Regions from separate parts of the Homo sapiens genome. Here region 1 is linked to region 2. Evidence: fine-mapped expression QTL. A gene starts in region 2. The other region holds a variant in brackets. All regions are shown on one strand. Distances are between the middles of the regions.

Evidence for each region.
Region 1: its variant is fine-mapped to the expression of NANS in whole blood (TOPMed, PIP above 0.99).

The regions. Positions count from the first base shown.
Region 1 is chr9:98,076,545-98,079,044 of GRCh38, forward strand. NANS (N-acetylneuraminate synthase) reads left to right here. Exons shown (of 6, transcript NM_018946.4): 3 at 374-473; 4 at 1,649-1,803. It also overlaps a transcript of TRIM14 not described here. Among named protein-coding and RNA genes, the nearest start is that of NANS, 21 kb to the left of the region's middle. The variant T/C (reference allele first, on the strand shown) is at 1,558.
Region 2 is chr9:98,054,916-98,057,881 of GRCh38, forward strand. NANS (N-acetylneuraminate synthase) reads left to right here and starts at 1,817. Exons shown (of 6, transcript NM_018946.4): 1 at 1,817-2,025. The coding sequence starts at 1,894. It also overlaps a transcript of TRIM14 not described here. RefSeq lists enhancers at 1,326-1,375, 2,416-2,535 and silencers at 1,566-1,915, 1,996-2,165.

The DNA of each region.
Region 1 (2,500 bases), 21 kb after region 2:
TTATATTTTTAGTAGAGACGGGGTTTCACCATGTTGGTCAGGCTAGTCTCAAACTCCTGACCTCAGGTGATCTGCCCGCCTCGGCCTCCCAAAGTGCAGGCATGAGCCACCACGCCCAGCCCTTTTCCAGATTCCTGTAGCCAGCAAAGACCAGCACCAAACGTTTGTTGGGCTAATGGATGGGTGGATGCAAATGAATGTTTGCATTTGAATGAAATGACTGAGAACAAATCTTTGCCTGCTTTCAAGTTGCTGAGCGTCCCTCTACTGCCTAAGATGAGGGGTTTTTCTACTTGTATGTTATTCCTTGCCTGTCATAACAACAGTGTTTTTGGACAATGGTGAAAAGGAGCTCCCTCTTTGATTTTTGTAGATGGCAGTTGAATTCCTGCATGAACTGAATGTTCCATTTTTCAAAGTTGGATCTGGAGACACTAATAATTTTCCTTATCTGGAAAAGACAGCCAAAAAAGGTAAGTGTCTAATTTTTGACTTAAAATCGAAGGGAGTCCAAACCTTCATATTTTTACTCCCCTCATGGTGGCCCACTTTCAGCAGATTTCATGAAGACAAATTTTAGCCTCTTTTCATTTTTTTAAATAGAGATAGGGTCTCGCTGTGTTGGCCAGGTTGGTCTTGAACTCCTGGCCTAAAGCAATCCTCCCATCTCGACCTCCCAAAGTGCTAGGATTACAGGCATGAGCCACTGTGCCCTGCCAGAAACCTCTTTTCAATCAGCCTGTACTTCCATTTTTTGTAAGCTAATTTGAAAGAAAATGAATTAAGAATATGACAGTTTTTATAAGACATTTAGAAATTCTTTTTAAGAATTTTTTTTTTTTTTTAATAGAGACAAGGTCTGTCTATGTTGCCCAGGTTGGTCTTGAACTCCTGGATTCAAGTGATCCTCCTACTTCAGCCTCCCAAAGTGTTGGGATTACAGGTGTGAGCCACTGCACCTGTCCTAGAAAATTTTTTAACTAAAATTTATAAGAAATTAAGGATATGACAGTATATATAAAACCTAGCTGGGTATGGTGGTGCATTACTGTGGCCCCAGCTACTCGGGAGGCTGAGGTAGGAGGATTGCTTGAGTTTGAGACCGCAGTGGGACATGATCGTGTAAAGTGGTTTTACAACATGAACAATTTCATTTGATCCTCATAACACTCCTAGGACTGAAACAGGTCATGATTATGATGCTTGATACTTATTTCACAGGGGAGGCCTCTGAGACTCAGAGACGGACAGTACTCTGCCCAGGCACAGCTAGAAGTGGCAGCTCCACACCTCACATTCATTCACACTCTTGAATCAGCACTCATTCTACTGTACTGCCATGGTATACAACCTATTAATCAGATAAGATACTCATTTTCCTCTTGGCAGTGTGAAATTCCTCTGCCTCTTTAATTCAGTTCCTTTTGCTCAAGAACACTGTCGGGGGGCAGAGGGGAGCCCACCTTTCCTGTGGCCGAGGGCAGGAACCCAACAAGCTCCTCTCTGTTCCCCCACAGGGGCTGGCACAGTGTTTTAAGAGATGTCTGTGGAGTTCAG[T/C]TGAATGATGAGACCAGCAGTTGGGATGTGTTGGGGAGAGTCAGAACCTCTAAAGAGAAAGTGCTGATGGTGTTGGTGCTGGATTACTCAGGTCGCCCAATGGTGATCTCCAGTGGGATGCAGTCAATGGACACCATGAAGCAAGTTTATCAGATCGTGAAGCCCCTCAACCCCAACTTCTGCTTCTTGCAGTGTACCAGCGCATACCCGCTCCAGCCTGAGGACGTCAACCTGCGGGTCATCTCGGTGAGCAGGAGGGAGGGGGTTCCCTTCTTGGGCCATTTACTATGGGGAAGGCGTAGTCTTTTTTATAACCAAAATTCTAACAAACATGGCATACTTTATAATTTGAACATCCTTTGACAGTCTTGCTGTTACCAAATCAAATTCGAGCTAAGCAGTTGAGGAAGCACATACATTCTAAAGAGGGTGACTGTAAATGAAATTTTCTTGGCCAGGCGCGGTGGGTCATGCCTGTAATCCCAGCACTTTGGGAGGTCGAGGTGGGCAGATCACCTGAGGTCAGGAGTTCGAGACTAGCCTGGCCAACATGGTGAAACCCCTTCTTATTAAAAATATAAAAATTAGTCAGGCATGGTGATGCGTGCCTGTGGTCCCAGCTACTCAGGAGGCTGAGGCAGGAGAATCGCTTGAATTCAGGAGGCAGAGGTTGCAGTGAGCCGAGATTGCACCACTGCACTCAAGCCTGGGTGACAGAGTGAGACTCTCAGGGGGAAAAAAAAAAAAAAAAAAGTCTGTCTGTCAACAGACATTTGGGATGATTTTACCTTTTGGCTATTGTGAATGATGCTGCTATGAACACTAGCGTACAGATAAATATTCATCTTTTTTCATACTGAGTTATAGGAGGCCTTCTTGAAACTTCCTGGCTTTTTCTGCTTTATTTGCTGACTCTCTTATTTTCTAATGCTGAGCATCCCTG
Region 2 (2,966 bases):
TAGAGAGAGTAATTCATGCAGAGCCAGCTGTGCAGTCTGGCTGAGTTTTATTATTACTCACATCAATTTCCCCTAGCATTCAGGGATCAGAGGTTTTTGGGGTTTTTGTTTGTTTGTTTTTGAAATGGAGTTTCGCTCTTGTTGCCCAGGCTGGAGTGCAATGGCACAATCTCAGCTCACTGCAACCTCCGCCTCCCAGGTTTAAGCGATTCTCCTACCTCAGCCTCCCAAGTAGTTGGGATTACAGGCATGCACCACCATACCTGGCTCATTTTGTATTTTTAGTAGAGACAGGGTTTCACCATGTTGGCAAGGCTGGTCTCGAACTCCTGACCTCAGGTGATCCACCCGCCTCAGCCTCCCAAAGTGCTAGGATTACAGGTGTGAGCCACTATGCCCCACCTTGGAGATCAGAGTTTTTAAGGATAATGTGGTGGGTTAAGAGAGGCCAGTATGCCAGGAGTGCTGATTGGTTGTGTTGGAGATAAAATCATAGAAAGTCAAGGCTGTCTTCTTGTGCCAAGTCAGTTCCTGGTTGGGGGACACAAGATCAGATGAACCAGTTTATCAATCTGGTGGTGCCAGCTGATCCATCAAGTGCAGGGTCTGCAAAATATCTCAAGCACTGGTCTTAGGTTTTACAATAGTGATGTTATCCCCAGGAGCAATTTGGGGAGGGTCAGAATCTTGTAGCCTCCAGGTGCATGACTCCTACGTGTCTAATCTTGTGGCTAATTTGTTAGTCCTACAAAGGCAGTCTAGTTCCCAGGAAAGAAGGAGGTTTATTTTGGGAAATAACTTATCTTATTTTTTAAATTAATTAATTAATTTATTTATTTTTGAGACAGAGTCTTGCAGTGTCACCAGGCTGGAGTGCAGTGGTGTGATCTGGGCTCACTGCAACCTCCACCTCCCGGGTTCAAGCGATTCTCCTGCCTCAGCCTCTCGAGTAGCTGGGATTACAGGCACGCACCACCACGCCCGGCTAATTTTTTTGTATTTTTAGTAGAGACGGGGTTTCTCCATATTGGTCAGGCTGGTCTCGAACTCCTGACCTCAGGTGATCTGCCTGCCTTGGCCTCCCAAAGTGCTGGGATTACAGGTGTGAGCCACCGCGCCCGCCCAGGTGATTGTATTTTAAGAGCCTGGGGCTGGGAGGTCCGGGTACTAGTCCCATCTCTGCTTTGGCTTTCTGGATGGCTTTGGACAAGCCAGTGCAACTTCTCGAACCTGTTGCCTCTCATATAATAGGAACCTCCGCCACTTCTTGAAAACTTACTACAAGCCAAGTATTGTGATCAGGGGTTTCTATACGTCATCTCACAGTTCTATTTTATTTTTTTGCTTCAGAGAGAAACAAAAATAACGCTCCGGAAGACTGAGTAACGTATATATGAGCAGGAGCTGGTGACTGGCATAGGCTGGACTCGATCCAGCTCTGTGATTCTAACTCTAGCAACCCTGTTTTTTCCATTACACCATAGGGCGCGCTCTCCCCATGCTCCTGAGAGCAGGACATAGACTATGCCCTGCGCAGGCAGCCGTCCGCCTCCTGCAGGGAATGCTTGCTCCTGGGTGCACGCACGGATACCGCGATGGTCCGAGACCACGCTCTGGGACAGCAAGCCTCAAGCCTCGCACAGGAGAGGGCCGCGGAGCTTCCTCGACCCGCCCCGCCGCCCTTCCCGCGGGAGGCCCCGCCCCCGCCCCCCGCCCCGATTGGCTGTCGGGAGAGAGGCGGGGCCTAGGGGATTGGCTGCCCGGCGACCGCGGGCTGACGTGGCGGGGCTGGCGTGTGGGTCTCGCAGCGTTGCTCACAGAACAGAGTAGAGGCGGCGGCGGCGGCGGCCGGACCCAGACTGGTAGTGAGGCTTTGGACCCCGAGCCGCTGCAATGCCGCTGGAGCTGGAGCTGTGTCCCGGGCGCTGGGTGGGCGGGCAACACCCGTGCTTCATCATTGCCGAGATCGGCCAGAACCACCAGGGCGACCTGGACGTAGCCAAGCGCATGATCCGCATGGCCAAGGTGAGGCGGCAGCTCCCGGGACCCGGGATTCGGGCGCCGGGAGGGGCGGGGCGGGGCCGCGGGGAGCCAGGGCCACACGGCCTCCGCGGCTGGGTACCCTGGTCCGGCCTCTTCCCGCCCGCCAGTTCCGTTTTCGGAATCCTTCGGATCCCTCTTCCTCACCGTGTCCGCCACCCTCGTGACCTTTCTGCATTACAGCAGCTGCCTCCTAACCCGACCTGTTTCCTCCCCGTTCTGGTGCCAGAATAATCTTTCTAAAAGTCAGACTTGATCAGACCATCCCCCCTGCCTGGCACCTTCTGTGGCTCCCTCCTGCCCGCGGGTAGAGTCGAAACCCTTTAACATAGCCTTCAAGATTTTAATGACTGGGCCCCTTCCAGCCCGTCATAATTCTTCTCTGACATTCTTCAGCGACACAGAGTTACTTTCAGGAATGACAGTTCCTGGAAGTTGCTGTGGTCTCTCTCACCCGCCATTCCCTGTATATGAAATATGAAGTGGTTAAAAGCCGGGCCTTTGAGTTCAAATCTCAGTTCCACCACTACTAGCTGTGTGAACATGGGCTGCTTACTTAGCCTCCGTGAACCCTTTTCCCCATTTGAAAACGGGGCTTGAAAACAACAGTTCTTTCCACATGGAGTTGTTATGGGGATCAAATGAGATTCTCAGATAGAGCTCTGAGCCCAGCACTTGGCACACATGAGTCGGTAAATGCGTGCTCCCTCTTCTGTTGGGACTGCCATATTCTTCATTACGACCCCAGCCCCCAGCATAAGGCCTGGCCTGCACTATGATTCTTTGGTTTAGAGATAGCTCACCCCATCTTTCCTTTCCCTTCATCAATGCTACTCAACTGATTTTGTATCATTTGTGATAGGTTTTTTAAATGTTTATTTATTTATTTATCTATGTTAGAGACAGGGTCTTGCTCTGTCACCCAG